4 separate regions of the Homo sapiens genome follow, and all the other regions are reported to be linked to region 1. The links are microRNA targets in miRTarBase. Many come from high-throughput screens and were not tested one by one. Region 1 holds a microRNA gene; each other region holds the end of a gene's coding sequence.
The links. The annotated mature microRNA hsa-miR-4519 reads CAGCAGUGCGCAGGGCUG and lies in region 1 at 1,225-1,242, shown strand. An mRNA with a match to its seed (bases 2 to 7 or 8) in the 3' UTR can be bound and repressed. Matches are read on the target gene's strand: a 7mer-m8 pairs with bases 2 to 8, a 7mer-A1 pairs with bases 2 to 7 and ends in A, and an 8mer does both.

Region 2: miRTarBase lists FEM1A as a target of hsa-miR-4519. The part of its 3' UTR that is shown has no 7-base or 8-base seed match.
Region 3: the mRNA of LDOC1 is a reported target of hsa-miR-4519. Seed matches in the 3' UTR shown: 7mer-m8 at 494-500 and 7mer-A1 at 1,921-1,927.
Region 4: miRTarBase lists ZC3H14 as a target of hsa-miR-4519. Seed matches in the 3' UTR shown: 7mer-m8 at 559-565, 7mer-A1 at 1,508-1,514 and 7mer-A1 at 3,715-3,721.

The regions. Positions count from the first base shown.
Region 1 is chr16:30,872,476-30,876,542 of GRCh38, reverse strand. MIR4519 (microRNA 4519) reads left to right here and starts at 1,220; the gene lies at 1,220-1,277. It overlaps MIR762HG (MIR762 host gene), which reads right to left and starts at 1,083. Exons shown (of 3, transcript NR_110942.1): 1 at 1,057-1,083; 2 at 425-513. It also overlaps a transcript of BCL7C not described here. RefSeq lists a silencer at 311-370 and enhancers at 691-740, 771-980, 290-1,044, 1,251-1,510, 1,045-1,799 and 1 more.
Region 2 is chr19:4,793,625-4,797,691 of GRCh38, forward strand. It overlaps FEM1A (fem-1 homolog A), which reads left to right. Exons shown (of 1, transcript NM_018708.3): 1 at 1-4,067. The coding sequence ends at 240. Among named protein-coding and RNA genes, the nearest start is that of FEM1A, 3.9 kb to the left of the region's middle.
Region 3 is chrX:141,172,928-141,176,994 of GRCh38, reverse strand. It overlaps LDOC1 (LDOC1 regulator of NFKB signaling), which reads left to right. Exons shown (of 1, transcript NM_012317.4): 1 at 1-3,760. The coding sequence ends at 414. Among named protein-coding and RNA genes, the nearest start is that of LDOC1, 2.2 kb to the left of the region's middle. RefSeq lists an enhancer at 302-801.
Region 4 is chr14:88,611,467-88,615,533 of GRCh38, forward strand. ZC3H14 (zinc finger CCCH-type containing 14) reads left to right here. Exons shown (of 17, transcript NM_024824.5): 17 at 279-4,067. The coding sequence ends at 285. EML5 (EMAP like 5) reads right to left here. Exons shown (of 44, transcript NM_183387.3): 44 at 965-4,067. Among named protein-coding and RNA genes, the nearest start is that of ZC3H14, 50 kb to the left of the region's middle.

The sequences.
Region 1 (4,067 bases):
TGTCTTCCTAGGGCCTAGTGTGGTGCCTGGCATACAGTAGGTGCTCATTAATGATAAATGAATGAAAGCAAGCACATCTCCCTTTCTCTACTGGCAAAATCCTAATCCTTTTCTGGTTACATTTCTCCTGTAGCATCCAATTCTGTTCTCGAGACCCAAAAGATCCCTGAGGTCCTGTGATCAATGGAGTTTTAGCTCAGGTCCATTTCACAGTGGGCCCAGGGGATCCCCAGATTCATCCGTGGTTATTTCCCCAGGCACAGAGTGAGTGCACTGGTGGCACAGGCATACCCAGCAAGTGGCATAATCCCCCCCATTAGTTAACTGGGTGTCGCTGTGCATGGCTGTGAAGGCAGGGATGCACCTGGCTGGTGACCCCAGAACCCCTCCGGGTACGGCACAAGGGCAGAGCCCAAGAACTTACTTTCTGTCCTCTTGCATTTGCCTGTGGATTTGCAGTTGGTAATGGCGTTCTTGCCCGGCCCTCCTTTGTTCCTCCAGGCAGCCAGGCAGCTGTGGCGTAGTGAAAGGGCAGGATGCGGGATAGGAATGGAGTTATTCCTGATTCAGACTGATTTGCTCTAACTGTGATTTGGGGCAAGTCCCTTCCCCTGTCTAGACCTTAGCTGGCTGCCGCATCTAAAAAATGGAGCCAATAATCTTTTCCTCGTCTTTGGGGTCATCCATCTTTCAACCACATCAGGAGCAGCGGGAACCAAGTGCAGAGGATGGCCTTAAAAGCAGTATGGGAACCAAATTTTTGTAAAGTAAATATTTTCAACCTTTATATTTTGGAATCACCAGCGGTATTTATTACGTGCACTCTAGGAAATGGAGGCAATGCAATGCCAAAAACAGAAAGTAAAACTGCTGTCCTGTGCCGCGGCCCGGTGGAGGTTTTAATGTCTGTATCTTAAGATCTGGTGAGGGCACGGGTAGGTGCGGCTGGACTGAGTGAAACCAGCCCCGCTGGGCGCCTGGGCCCTTGTCTCAGGGCTGTGCTCGCAGTGGAGGCATCTGCAGCTCGGCACCCAGAGGCCCCGCGACCCTTCCAACCTTTGTGACGCTCCGCGGAGACAAAGGCCGGCGGCGCAGCCTTGGGAAGGGTTAAGGCCACAGACGCAGCCCTGCGCGTGCTAGAGCGGCCGGTGGCGGACTTCCGGTTGGGGCGCGGGCGCGCGCCGCGTGTTCCCGACCCGCCGAGGCTGAGACCTCGGGCAACCTCAGCAGTGCGCAGGGCTGCACTGTCTCCGTCTGCGGCCTGCAGTAAGCGGGTAGGGGATATGTCGCGTGGCCTCGCCTGGTCTGCGGCGGGAAACTCGCATCTAGGCCAGACCCTCCCGCAGGGTCCGCACTCGCGATCTGGGCTGTGGGCAGCATCGTGGCCCCTCGGGGCGTTATAGGGGCGTGAGGATCCCGGGCGAGCTGGGGGCGGGCGGCTTCTTCAGCTCCCTTGCGCCATGGAACCCACTGTATGCCCGTTATGCAGTCAGGAAAGATGAGGCCGGGAAGGAGGGCGTTACGCTGCAACCCCGGAGACCAGCTGTCCCTCGCGTTGCCGCAGTCGGCAGAGGCGTGGCCGGAGCCATTCCCGGTCTCCAGTGCGGCTGCAAGAGCGGGCGCCCGAGGGCGTTCTGCTCCGGGCCTCCACCCGCGAGCTGACCGTGTCAGGCGCGCCACACACGGCGCTTCTCATTCTCTCTCCACCTCGCGAGGCAGAAGCTGCCGTTCCCGTGTCACAGACAGAAAAACAGTCTGGGGTGATTTATCCGGAGTCAAGACTCAGGTCTGTGGCTCAGTCGGGAAGGATAGAAACCCAAGCTTCCTCCGAATGGTTCAGAGACCCGACCAAGTTAAATAATAATGGCCCTGGCTCAGGGGTCTTTAAGTCTTCCCCCCGCCCTCCCCTTTTGTTTTTGTTTTGTTTTGAGACCGCCTCACTGTCCCCCAGGCTGGAGTGCAGCGGTGCGATCTCCGCTCACTGCAGCTTCGACCTCCCGAGGGCTCAGGTGATCCTCCCACCTCAACCTCAGGAGTGTCTGGGACTACAAACACGCGCCACCACGCCCGGCTAATTTTTCTGTTTTTTGTAGAGTCAGGATCTCGCTATGTTGTCCAGGCTGGTCTGGAACTCCTGGGCTCAAGCGATCCTCCTGCCTCGGCCTCTGAAAGTGCTGGGATTACAGGCATGAGCCACCGCACCTGGCTACCCTTTAATTAACTCAAGGAGTTTAATAATTGAATTTAGGCTGGGCTCAGTGGCTCACGCCTGTAATCCTAGCACTTTAAGAGGCCACGTCGGGCAGATCACTTGAGGTCAGGAGTTCAAGACCAGTCTGGCCAACATGGTGAAACCCTGTCTCTACTAAAAATACAAAAATTAGACGGATGTGGTGCCACACACCTGTAATCCCAGCTACTCGGGAGGCTGAGGCAGGAGAATCCCTTGAACCCGGGAGGCAGAGGTTGCAGTGAGCCAAGATCGCACCACTGCACTCTAGCCTGGGCCACAGAGCAAGAATCTGTCTCAAAAAAAAAAAAAAAGGTTTGACACCTATACCTTCCTCTGTGTGTGTGTGTGTGTGTGTATACATATATCTATATATATATGTATATAGAGAGAGGAGGAAAAATTATATAATTTTTCTATATGTGTGTGTGTGTATATATATCTGTACAATTTTTTTTTTTTTTGAGACAGTGTAGCTCTGTGGCCCAGGATGGAGTGCAGGGACTCGATCTCGGCTCACTGCAACCTCCGCCTCCCAGGTTCAAGCGATTCTCCTGCCTCAGCCTCCCGAGTAGCTGGGATTACAGGCTGCTGCTACCATGCCTGGGTAATTTTTGTATTTTTAGTAGAGACAGGGTTTTGCTATGTTGCCCAGGCTGGTCTGGAACTCCTGAGCTCAAAAGTGATCTGCCTGCCCCAGCCTCCCCAAATGCTGGGATTACAGGTCTGAGCCATCACACCCGGCCCATATATACGTATTTTAAAATAACACCTTTACTGAGAGAGATGACTCACACACCATACAACTCACCCATTTAAAGTGTACAGTTCAATGATTCTTAGTATCTTCACAGTTTTGCAAATATCACCACAGTCAATTTTAGAACATTTTCATTACCCCTAAAAGAAACCATACCCATTAACAGTAACTCCCAAGCCTTCCTCCCACTACAGCTCTAGACTACTGCAAATCTACTTTCTGTCTCTATAGAGTTGATTATTTTGGACATTTCATATTAGGGCTTTATGTGGCCTTTTTTGACTGAGATAACCTTTTTGTTGTTGTTTTTAACAAAATCAACTCCTTGAGCTCAGAGCCCTGGCCTATAATCATAGCCAGCTAGAACTGAACAGCATTGTTTTGGTTTTATTGTATCTATTTTTACCACTCTTGGGTACATGATAATTTCTCATTTATGGCAGTGGTTAAAGTTTCCTTTTGAATACACCTAGTTCCATCAAAACGTGAGTTGATAATTTTTAAAGAACAAGATTAAGTAAACAGAAGTAGAGGTGGTCCACAAATTTGTCAGAGGTTGGGAAGATGGGATGTGAATGAAGTTTGGCAAACACTGGATTGTCTGATTTACGGTTCTCCAGGTCATCATTTGAAAACCACCCTCACCTTATTCTTTCATTGCATTTTCCTGACAACTCCTGTAAAGAAGTGCATGATTTTACCGATGAAGAAACAGGTTCAGAGAAGTCAGGTACAATTACTTGTCCAGTGTCACACAGCTAGTGACAGAAGCTAGGCTTAACCAAGTCTGTCTGATTGCCAAAACTACCTACTTACCAAGTCTGGAAGTAGGATAGGGGGTGGGGAATGGACTAGCAGGCTTGAGAGGGGACTCTGGCCACTACCCAAAACATGCGGGCACCAGGCTGCCTGAGTTGTTTTGGGTACCTCTTCTAACAAATATTCAAATATTTCTATGAAACAATTTATGACTCTAAACAGAAATCCCATCTCATTTGCCACTGGGGCTTTCACCCTCTCTCAACGGCACACCGCAGTTCAGGAAGTGCTGCCTGCCTGGAGAATGAGGGTGTGTGT
Region 2 (4,067 bases), not on the chromosome of region 1:
AACAACTGCCCGGCCATCATGAATGCCCTGATCGAAGCAGGGGCCCACATGGACGCCACCAATGCCTTCAAGAAGACGGCCTACGAGCTGCTGGACGAGAAGCTGCTGGCCAGGGGTACCATGCAGCCCTTCAACTACGTGACCCTGCAGTGCCTTGCGGCCCGGGCCCTGGATAAGAACAAGATCCCTTACAAGGGCTTCATCCCGGAAGATCTGGAGGCGTTCATCGAACTGCACTGACCTGCCCAGAACGCCTGCACCCTCACCTCTCCCCTCTCCTGCTGAGATGGGGGAAATCCGGCTGCGGCATAGCAGATGCTCGTTCTTGCCTCCTTCAGGCACCAATCAGGAGAAGGGTTCTGCCTCCCATCCCCTCTACCTGCAGACAGGGTCGGAGGTGTTAGCGAGCCTTTGGTGCTAGAAGCCTGCGGGGTCATGTGCTAAGAGGACAGTCTTTCTCCGGGAGCCCGCTCACTCATTCTGAGTTAGGAAAAGACACAAGACCTTCCCCACATCCTGTCTGCCTGGGTTAGGGAGGCCTTTGCCTTGTTACCTAGAGGCGGAGGGACTGAAGCCATTGCGTTCCTTCCCTGCTAGAAACACAGGAAGAAGTTGAGGACTGTCTGCCTTCCCTCGTCCCTTTACCTGGCCAGATAACTCCAGCCGCTGAATACAGTGTTAGGACTGGGGGCTCCTGAGATGAGAGTTTGAGATTCAGGGAATGAGACCACCTCTCATTTCTTCCAGCATGATCGCGCCCTGCTCCCGTGCCACCGTAGTCCCTGGCAGACAGGCAGGGCTCTGCCCAGGGCAGCCTGCCACTTGCATAGCTTTCGGTTGGTTTGGTGTTCTGTTTATTTAATAAGTGGGCAGGTTGCAAGCGTTGCACAGAAATTCTGAGATTTTACTGCCTTTTTTTTTTTTTTTAAGAAAGTTGTTTGTTGGACTCCATAAGTGAATTTCAAGCAGTGAGGATTTTGTGGTGCCTGAGATGGCCGAGGGCACAGGGAGTGAGCTGTATGTGTGAGGAATTTGGTGAGCGAGATAAAAGTCCACGGTGTCAACCCCTAAAACATGGGTGACCGTACATTTTTATACATCTCCACTCTACGGCCTTTTACAGGCTTTCCGATTTTACAGGCCTTTCCAAGTTTCCATTCTCCTTAGAGAGAGAACTGTGCTTCCAAACAGAAATCAGGAGTGACCACAAAGCCTGAAAACACTTTGCCACCCAGCAAAGAACTGGCACAATTGGTTTGGGTCTGCATTGCCATAGTGCCCGAGTTAAAACTGCAGGCCACTCTGCCTTGCAGTGGCCTCTGATTTCATTGTGGGTGCATCCACAGGTGGCCCGAGCTGTTCTTTCAGCTGCTCCAAGGATTGAGACCCAAGTCATCATGAAAAAGGCCCAAGTACAGTCTTAATGCGATAAATCCACTAGCTAAGACGTCGAGTGCCAAGACCAGCCTTCCAGCCGAGGTTTGGACAAAGTCTCAGGTTCCCGTGACTCAGGGTAAGGTGCTGGGGCTGCCAGAGGACCTGCCCCAGCAAGATTTTTGTCAAGAGCGAGACTCCATCAGCCCAGGCAGACGGGAGCAGGTTCTTGGCCAGCGTAGACAGCAGCAAACAGCAGCAGGGAAGCCATTCTCACTGCATCCTCCCTGCAGTAGCCACGGCCAGGCCCTTAGGAGGAGCAGTGACCGGGGGTGTCCAGAAATATCCTGTCCCTGGATGGAAACTAGGTCTCGTTTGGATTTTTTTTTTTTTTTGCCGTGTTAGGAAATTATTTATTAATTTACAAGACAGGTTTTAACTCAGCCGAGGTGGGAAATGGTGTCCCTGTCCCTCCCAAAGCACAGAGCACAGAAATGAGGCCGTTTACATGGCGAGTCTCCGTGCTGGTGTTTAAGTCATTAAAAAGATACTCAAAGAGAATGGCCTGCCTGATGCGTCCTTGGCGTGGGTTAACTGGGGAAGTCGGAGGTGGGTGAGTCAGTCCATGGCATTGGTGTGAGTGAACAGAGAGCCCTAGGGCCACCTCCCCTAGCCAGAGGGGTTTCTGTGTTACATACTGGGGCTTTTTTTTTTTTTTTGAGACAGAGTCTCACCCTGTCCCCCAGGCTGGAGTGCAATGGCGCGATCTCAGCTCACTGCAACCTCTGCCTCCTGGGTTCAAACAATTCTGCTTCAGCCTCCTGAGTAGCTGAGATTACAGGCACCTGCCACTATGCCCAGCTAATTTTTGTATTTTCTGTAGAGGCAGGTTTTGCCATGTTGGCCAGGCTGGTCTCAAACTCCTGAACTCAAGCGATCCTCCCACCTCAGCCTCCCAAAGTGCTGGAATTACAAGCATGAACCACTGCACCTGGCCTCTATGTTACATACTGGGGCTTTGTGTAAAATTTCATTTGAAAAACAGTATGTTGCTCTTTGAAAAAAAGCCTGGGCAACATAGTGAGAGCCTGTCTTTACAAAAATAAAAAATAGGCTGGGTACGGTGGCTCACATCTGTAATCTCAGCACCTTGGGAAGCCTGGGCAACATAGTAAGACCTCTGTCTCTACATTTTTTTTTTTTTTTTTTTTGAGATGGAGTCTTGCTCTGTCACCCAGGCTGGAGTGCAGTGACGCCATCTCGGCTCACTGCAACCGCTGCCTCCCGGGTTCAAGTGATTCTCCTGCCTCAGCCTCCTGAGCATCTGGGACTACAGGCATACACCACCATGCCTGGCTAATTGTGTATTTTTAGCAGAGACGGGGTTTCACCATATTGGCCATGCTGGTCTCAAACTCCTGACCTTGTGATCCACTCGCCTCGGCCTCCTAAAGTGCTGGGATTATAGGTGTGAGCCACCACGCCTGGCCCTTTTTTGTTTTCCTTTATCTGCCATCTCATCTCACCTCCTTGTGTAAACTTGTTCCATTCTAAAATTCTGGTTTTCTCCATATCAGAACAGTCAAACCCCCACCAGAAAGCACCACCCCGTTAGCTGGGTCCATGGGATTTTGCTGAGCCCCTGCCATGTGCCAGGCAGGTTTCAGGCCCCCTTGGGGATAAGGATTGAGCTGTCGATATGAACGTCCGGTTAATCCCTGTGCGCCCGCCTCACGTGGCAGTGGGGAGAGGCCCTGCTGTGGGGCACCGCATGCTGCTTCCATGGTGCATTGGGTTGGAGGGCTCTTCTCCCGAGGGTGGGTGTCTCCCATCTCTTGCCTTCACACACCTGCTGTCTTGTTTCATTTGGGACTGGACAGTCCCACAGGTGACAGCTGTTGGGCTGTTGTATGCCTGTTTGGTGTTGCATCAAAGGAGTGGGTTTGAATCAGCAGGTGCTCTCAAAGCTGTCTCCTGGGAGACACAGTACTAGTGAGCATTTATTGAGCACCTACTGTATGCCAGGCACCATTTTCTGTGGTTAAATGCACTGCCTGTTTACACAACAGCCCTCTAAAGGAGGAAAAACATATCAGAGTCCCATGGATGGAAGAAAAATAATGAAGTAGGAAAAACGGCCCTCTTAAGATGAAGGTCATCTTTTTTTTTTTTTTTTTTTTTTTTTGAGACGGAGTCTCTGTCGCTCAGGCTGGAGTGCAGTGGTGTGATCTCGGCTCACTGCAAGCTCAGCCTCCCGGGTTCACACCATTCTCCTGCCTCAGCCTCCCGAGTAGCTGGGACTACAGGCACCTGCCACCATGCCCGGCTAATTTTTTGTATTTTTAGTAGAGATGGGGTTTCACCGTGTTAGGATAGTCTTGATCTCCTGACCTCATGATCCGCCCACCTCGGCCTCCCAAAGTGCTGGGATTACAGGCATGAGCCACCGCACCCGACCAGATGAAGGCCATCTTAAAGCTCAACCAGTTTCAGGTGAGGGCTGATCCAGCAGATCCCAATTATTCCTAAAGACCTGGTTGATAGCTCCCTTGAGACTGGGGTGGGGTGGGTGTCCCAAGATGACCGCCAGCAGAAAAGAGAGCATCTTTCTCCCAGTCAAAAGCCAAAGTAGGACCTATCTAAAGTAAGTCCTGGCCGGGCACGGTGGCTCACACCTGTAATCCCAGCACCTT
Region 3 (4,067 bases), not on the chromosome of region 1:
CACGCGCTCCTGATGCGGCACCGCGCCCTGAGCATCGAGAACAGCCAGCTCATGGAACAGCTGCGGCTGCTGGTGTGCGAGAGGGCCAGCCTGCTGCGCCAGGTACGTCCGCCGAGCTGCCCGGTGCCCTTCCCCGAAACGTTTAATGGCGAGAGCTCCCGGCTCCCCGAGTTTATCGTGCAGACGGCGTCTTACATGCTCGTGAACGAGAACCGATTCTGCAACGACGCCATGAAGGTGGCATTCCTAATCAGCCTCCTCACCGGGGAAGCCGAGGAGTGGGTGGTGCCCTACATCGAGATGGATAGCCCCATCCTAGGTGATTACCGGGCCTTCCTCGATGAGATGAAACAGTGCTTTGGCTGGGATGACGACGAAGACGACGACGACGAAGAAGAGGAGGATGATTATTAGGCCCTCGACCCTCGGGCCTCGGGGGGGAGGGCCCTGCACGCCGCCACCCCCTCCCCGCAGCCCTCACCCCGCCAGGAGCCACTGCTCTCCCCCTTGCCCTCCGGTCCCCTTACCTACCCGCGCCCGTCTGCTCTCTCTCTTCATTTCTCCGTAGTGCTTGTCTTTGTTCCAGGAATAGCGCTCCAGTTACCTGCTGCTGGGGTCGGGGCTGGAGCCTCACTCACTCGGAAGTGCTTGGAAGTGTCATCTACCCTGGCCATCCCCGGGATCCCTCCCCTGCTAATCTGAACTGTGTCCTGAACCCCAGCTATTGGCCAGGCCCCTGTTACAAACTGCGCAGACCACCCGTAGCCCTGCTGCTGCCACCTGCCCTGCTGCCAGGCTTACATCTTCCCAGAGAACTATGCTGCCACTTCACATCCACTCACCACATCCCACCTACAGACTACCACCTTTCGAGATCAGGACCAACCTGGAAAATGCCAGAGTTGGCTATGCCTTTTCAGACATTGATTTGGACAGCTCACCAACCCCTGAAGGGGCCGTTCAGCCTGGTTAGTTTTCTACCTACTCCGAGTGTCCTCCCCTGCCCCACCAGATTGCTGCAGGGGCGCGGTGTGCCTGGCAGCCAAATTGTTGACACTTCTTTTTTCCTATGCACTGGTTTTACACAGCTGTCATTTTTCTTTCAAAATTGCAGCAGTCCCACAGATGTGTGCATTTGGACAAATAGTACTTAAAAACAAAACAAACAAGCACTCAGCCCAGCTCCTCAATACTACCTGGAAAAAGCATTGGCATTATTTTCAATAAATATCAAGCACTAAAAAAAGAAATGATTGTCTTTTAATGGTTAAGTGCTATCACTGGCCTCTACCACTGTCACTCTGACTACCATTATTCCCGTGGAAATCAGGGAATACAACCAATCCTAGTATTCCCCGCTGTCATCTCCAGGCTGCTGGGGACAGCTACCTCAGGGCTTTGTCAGGGTTCTGATGCTCCCTTCACCAACGCATTTCTTAAAGCCCTGGCAAAGGGTGTGTTCTCTGGGTCCTCCAGGGTGGCGTGGTTAAGGGTTGGCTGAGCAGACGGCAAAGAGAGCAGTATTAATAATTAGACCATAACAATAGGCGTAAACCTGGACATATATATGTAATGCTCCTAATTCTCTGAGCTTTTGGATTCCTTAACACTGTGCCAGGGAAGTTCTGCCCCTTAATCCTTATTGCCTATGTGCAGCTGTTGAGTTCAGACTCCAGAGAGCCAACATAGTAGATTGTCACTTTCAAACTCCAAATAGCCAACATGTCACTTTCAGGTGCTCCAGCTAACATTAAGTCCCGGATCCTGGGCAAGTGCACCCATAAAGATATAGCCTGATCTTAACAAACATTTCGTTCTCCTTGGACAGACATCCTTAGAATTCCCACTCATAGATGTGTCCCAGATTCCTCCCTATGGAAATTAGCAAGATGCTTGGTTATCTCTTAAATCAGACCTTGTACTGCTATCTAGGGGCTATGCTGAGATCTCTGGGCCTGGAGGGTTCAGAGCAGTGAAGGGGGTGGCTGCTGAGAAGAAGCTGCATACCTGTGTGAGGCCATTGCTCCAGGTTAAGTCATTGAAATGTTTAATGCAGAGCAGCTTGGTTGGGGATTTGAGAGGACTGCCTCTTAGAAAGGTTTAGGAGGATATGAGGGGTTCAGAGTTCTCTTTTATATCTGTCCAGATGTCCTCATTGTACCATGTCTGGAGCCAACTTGACTTTATAACCTTTAATTAATTTAGATAACACATTTCCGTACTGTTTAAGGCCTTTTGAGGCAAGATATTGTATTTGTACTGGTAAACCTCAGTGTTGATTAAATGAGATATGGGTCTTCATATTAATCACCTCATAGGTGCGGATTAAATGAGATCATACCCATGAAGCATTTAGAACTTTCCCTGCTACATGGTGAGCACTCAGCAAACCATGGGCTGTTACTCCTGGGCCAGGGAACAGAAGTCTCAGAAAGCAAGTCTCTGACTCTGAGCCTGGCTTTAGTAGGAAAATGTCAGCGTGAAGAGGAGCAGAGCAGGTTCAGGGAGAATGGAAATGAGAGCATGATAAGACCCCATTTACTTTTTGGAGTCTTATATGAAGCAAGAAACAAAGCTGTTTTACGTGGTGGACAGGCAAAGTTCAGGGTAGGAGTTATATCTCACCCCTAGGATAGCTGTTTCTGGAGGGTGGGGACAGGGTTGCGTATGACTTAATAAAAGAGGCTGAGGCTTGGGTGGAAATGAGATCTGGGGCTCTTCAGGGAGCTGCCGCCTCCAAATCTGAATCAAGGAGACAGCTGGTTATTTAGAATTCATTGATCACTTCTCCCAGTCTCCTTGGAAAATATACAAAACCCCTTGGAAGAGAGAGATTATATTTGAGACATAATATGTGTGAGGCCAGATAATTACACTTTCTTCCTAACTAGAAAGGCCTTGAATTGGGGATAAATGTGGAAAAGTGAGCAAGATCTAAAAGGTAAAGGATCCAGTGAGACCAAAAGTCATTTATTCCAAACTGATTATGGCCCAGTTATGCTGAGTGGAGTTACAGAAACATCTTTGAATAAAATGTGATCTCTGCCTTCATAGCGAGTCCAGTCTGCTGCTTTTACTGTGCCCTGGGTCAGAACTTTGATGATTAGTTACAGGAAAGGGCCAGGAAGAGAATCTGGGCTGTGATTAGATCTGGGAATGACCTTTCTGGGGTGGAAGTTGAGGACATATGAGTAGGTGTTCTGTGGAGGAAGGGAGGTTCAGTAAGGATGCCATGCCAAGGCAGCATCTGAATGGCATCTGGGAGAACTAGGCCAGGGAGCTTCTGTGATCTGAAGTGTACATTTCCTGAGTATGTGTGCATGTGCACATGAGCTTGCTGTGACCCAGTATGTGTGTGCTCTGTGTGTGTGTGTGTTAAGTGATGTCCTTCTTACATCATGGACAAACAGGTTATGCTGTGAGATGCAGAAAAGGGATTCTGGTTACTTTGGGGGCAGATTCTGCAATAAAAGCGCAGATACTGGCAAGGGCTCCACCACCCAGGGAGGAATTCATGATAATGGCATAAAGCATGGCAAAAAAGAAGGAAGAAGTAGAAGTATGTCTAAGGATAAAAGTGCCACTTTGATCAAAACTATTAAAAATAGGTAGGAATGCTGAATAAATATGAACTTAGACCCTGAATTCTCATTTTGGGCGTAATAGACTTGAAATGGCCGCTGAAATTATACTATCAATGAAATGAAATTAGTCATATTAAATGTCGTAATCATTTAATCGTATTAAATATACCAATATATCTTTGGACTCTTCTATTCATTTGAATAGATAAGCACTGCCATCTATTAAGTCCGTGTTGCTGTATCCTGCAGAATGGTATATAAAGCTAGAGGTACTTTATGCACATGTATATTTGATTATTTTCTGCTATTAAAGCATGGCTAAAACCTCAGTAATTTGGAAGTAGGCAGATTAGAGGGAGAAGTCTTGTTGAAGTTAGTGGGATATTTGCATAAAAATGCGCTTAAATTTTTTTCTTGTTTTTTTGTTTTATTTTGTTTTGTTTGTTTTGTTTTTTTTGTTGTTGTGTTTTTGTTGTTGTTGTT
Region 4 (4,067 bases), not on the chromosome of region 1:
ACTTGAATTTCACATCCATTTTCTTCGACATTAGCAACTGGGAGATACTGAAAGGAAGTTTCAAAATATTTTAGTGTGGCCAGAAAATTTAATTACATATGGTATTATCTTTTATCTACCTGACATAATTGAATTATTTTTAAAAATCTGCCATTTATATTGTAATCTTATGACCAAATATTTATTGCTTAAAACTAGTCAACTTTTTAAACTGAGATATATGGTATATATGGATACAAAGCAGATAATTAAAACAATTTTTGGTTCTGTTCATTCAGCGAATAGCACCCAGTCCTGCCTGGCAGAAGATCATGCAGTTTGGAAGTTTTCATGTACTGATGAAAGATACTCTACAGAACTTGTCAAATCTTTGAAACTTGGAATATATTGCTTTCATAATATGAAGTTTTATTGCCTATCTATCTGAAGTGTCTAATTTTTCAAGTTTGTAAGTTTATTATGTGGTTTTAACATTGGGTGTTTTTGTTTTGTTTTTACTATGAAAAGACAGCTTAAGGAAGAGCTAAATTCTGTTAAAATATTTGGGGCATGTTTGTGCACTGCTGTTGTGAGGATCAGCATATGAAATTGACATCATGGTTAGTCATGGTACTGCAGCTTAGGGGGCTACACGGTTGCTGTGTGAGTGGAGAGATGCAGTGAGGCAGTTGTCATTATTCTAAAAATTGTACTACTTTCACTTTTCCCAAAGATTATATAATGTTCATAATCCACCATGAAAACAGCATTGGCCAAAGGTACTGAGGCTGCTTAAAATATTCAATTCTGCTTTTTAATTTTTAAGTGAATTTAGTTTGAAAAGCATGATTATACAGGCCTCTCAGGCTGAGTGCTACTTTGGTAAAGTTCCCAGTTTTCCTGCCTTCTGTGACAGGATGAATGAGGTGGGTATGGACAGTGGAGGCAGCTGGAATGGCAAGTGCAGAAAATAGGAACAGTTCTATACAGTGCTCTCATTTACTAATAACATAATGCCTTCTAAATAATTTTTTTGGGAAACTACATTATCACAAAATTATACAAATTTTTTTACAAGTATTTACATACTGTATCTGAAAACAGACTTTAAAGTCACAAGATTATAAATGTACATATATATTCTCACATTCTGAAAAATAACATTCTCAGAATCCACAGAAAATATACTTAGTTACTACTGAAGATAATTTTTGAAATGTAAAAATTAGATTTAAATAGTATATTTTAAATGACAGAACTATAATTACAGAGATCAGATCAGATAGGTAAACTGCAAGATAGATAGGATGAAACTTTTGGCCTACTGTATTACTTACAGAGTTTTTTTGTGTGTGGTTTTTAAAACTGTTAAGGCAAGAAGTGTCAAATGCTTTAGAGTTAAATAACAGATCACTGATTTCAAAGACTTGGTGTATAGTGTTAAAAATTAAAGCTTAAAAGGTGGTTAGAAAAGTGGATTAATGCAAAAGGGGTAATAAAGACTGCAACATTCTCAGGACCAAATTAAACTGCTAAAAAAAAAAAAAAAGTTCATTGACTTGCTTAGTCGTATACTCAAATGATGATAAACCTACATGTGCAAAGGCTCACGTTTAAGATTGTCAAGCCAGCAGTCTACTGTTGTGTTGCCATTGCTTTTCCATTGGGAGAAGAAAGAATTAACCAGTCATTAAACCATTTGGTAAGTTGCACTTTGCTGTGCTGATCCCACAGGAAAGGCTTGAAACACGAGAAGCAGCAAAGACAGAGCACACAAGTGCATAAGGCTGTTGTCTTCGGCTTGGGTGAAATGACAGTTCCTCTTCATTCTAAAGGTTTACTCCATTGAATTTAAGGCATTTGTTCATTCCAGTGTTGAGATGCTTTGCATCTCTGCAGAAGAAATTTATTTTAAATTGTTTAAATATCTGGAAATACTTTTAGCTATCATTTATAAAGATAGTTTTGTTCTCAGTTTCACTATAAATTATAGAACAAATGGGAAACAAGGGTTTAATTTAGTTCAGCCATTTTACAAGGAAATAATAAAATACTAAAATCTGATTGTTTTTTGCTATTTAATAGCCACTGCCCAGACACATATTTAAGAGTTTAATCTTTCAGTTGCTATGGCTTATGAACAAGCTAAGGTTGACCATAAAACATTTGTTGGATGACGTGGTTTAAAATGATCACCACAAAAAGGGACCACAAAAAAAGGAAGGAAATGAGCATGGTTGGCGATTGGAAGCAAGGGTACCAGAGGGCACAGTGTGCTTTGGCATGCATTTTATACATAAAATGAATGGAACAAAAGGTGCCAGAAGTCCCAGGTTACACAATCAGGAGCTTAGATACTGCACACAAAAATAATTATCTGGGTTAAAAAAGTAAACATAGGGCAGATTCTATATGGCCTATCATGTTTCTTCACCTTCCCCTCGTTGCTGGCTGATACAGCGAGGTGGTCAGCTGATGACTACTTAGTCAATATGACCTTTAGTCGTGAAACTGACAGCAGCAGTGATTAAGGCTGACTTAATCAGGTTGGCCACTTTGAAGGACAGAAATGCAGTGGAAACAGTTTTATTCTATGTAGTTTACATGCTTAAGGTTACAGAGTTTCTACCTGCACTGTAATGGAAATATAATTTCTCTGTAGCCAAAAGCTGGCAAACTTGACCCAGAGGGAAAATTTAAAACTGCAGCAGGCTCAAATGTAGAGTATTTTTCTTTTTATGGGCAGGTTGTTCAGGGATTTTTTTCCTCCTTTAATTTATTGACTGACTGTAAATACATGAGTAGAAACTTAATAGTCATGTATTTCAAAATTTGGCTTAATTTAGGAGAATCCACTGATGAACAAGTACCAACTTACGTTTCAAGCTTCTTAGCCCCATAATCAGTCCTTCAGCCACAGCTATTTAGAGCTTTAAAACTACCAGGTTCAATCACTGGTTATGCTTTCTGTGATGTAATTTAGTCATTTCTATTTTTAGTATTAACCAAGTATTAGACACAGAAAATAGGTATTAAGAATCTTCATATATCCTGTCAGACCAAATGGGATTCCAGGAACCTAAAGCGATCTATTATGCTATAAAGATAATTAACACATTAAAAACTCATAGGGTCAATACAGCATCTTAAACCTCACACTTAGAAAAATATATTTTTAAATAGCAGTCTACATAATTTTCAATCTTCAGGAAACTACAGATAGGCTAGACAGCGAATTCCTGAATGATGAGTAGTGATCTTTGGCAGCATTTAAAGTGAAAAGAAATAAGGATCTAAGAATTCAGCCCTAATCCACTAAAAAAAGGAATTCTAACTGACAAGTTTTTACAAATGGAGTTGGGCTCATTCATTTTGGAAATAAACCTATGGAGTGGCACACATCTAAACAAATTTTCCCAATAGAAAAAAGGCTATAAAAATTTTATTCCAAGAGTGATTAAATTGTATAATGTTGTATATGTGAATTTAACACTTTTGTTTACATGTTAAACAAATGTGTATATATTAGACTACATTAAATATGCAATTCTTTCTTCCAGTTAAATACTGTTGCTCCCTAAAACCCTTACATTGTACACCATTGGGAATGATTGTTCATCATACTACTTTTCCATTAGTGAGGCTACAGTTATGTTTTAAATGTGCGATTACAGAGATGGCATCTGAACATAAACTGATGGCTCGAAAATGAAAATGGAAATGTAGCAGCCATATACTGCTAACTTTGGATCTGTTCCTGAATTCAAAACTACTAGGAGAAAAGTGTCCTTTATAAAAAAGGACCTTATTAATGCCTAAAAAACATCATATTCTCTAGGAAAGCTTGTGTCTGTTTCCTTAGGGAAAATGTTTGCCTTTTAAAAACTGTGATCCTTTAGGATGATCATGACTTTCCCTTTCCTTATGGAAATGCAAGAATAAAATATTTCATTAAACAATGAACCTTGAAAATAAAATATAAACATTAAGAAACCATTTTGCTAAAAAGATAATGAAAATTATCCAAATTGGGTTTTTGAGTTCTTCTGTAAAGAGTGCTCTACCCTAAATTTTCCCAGCAGGTCTGC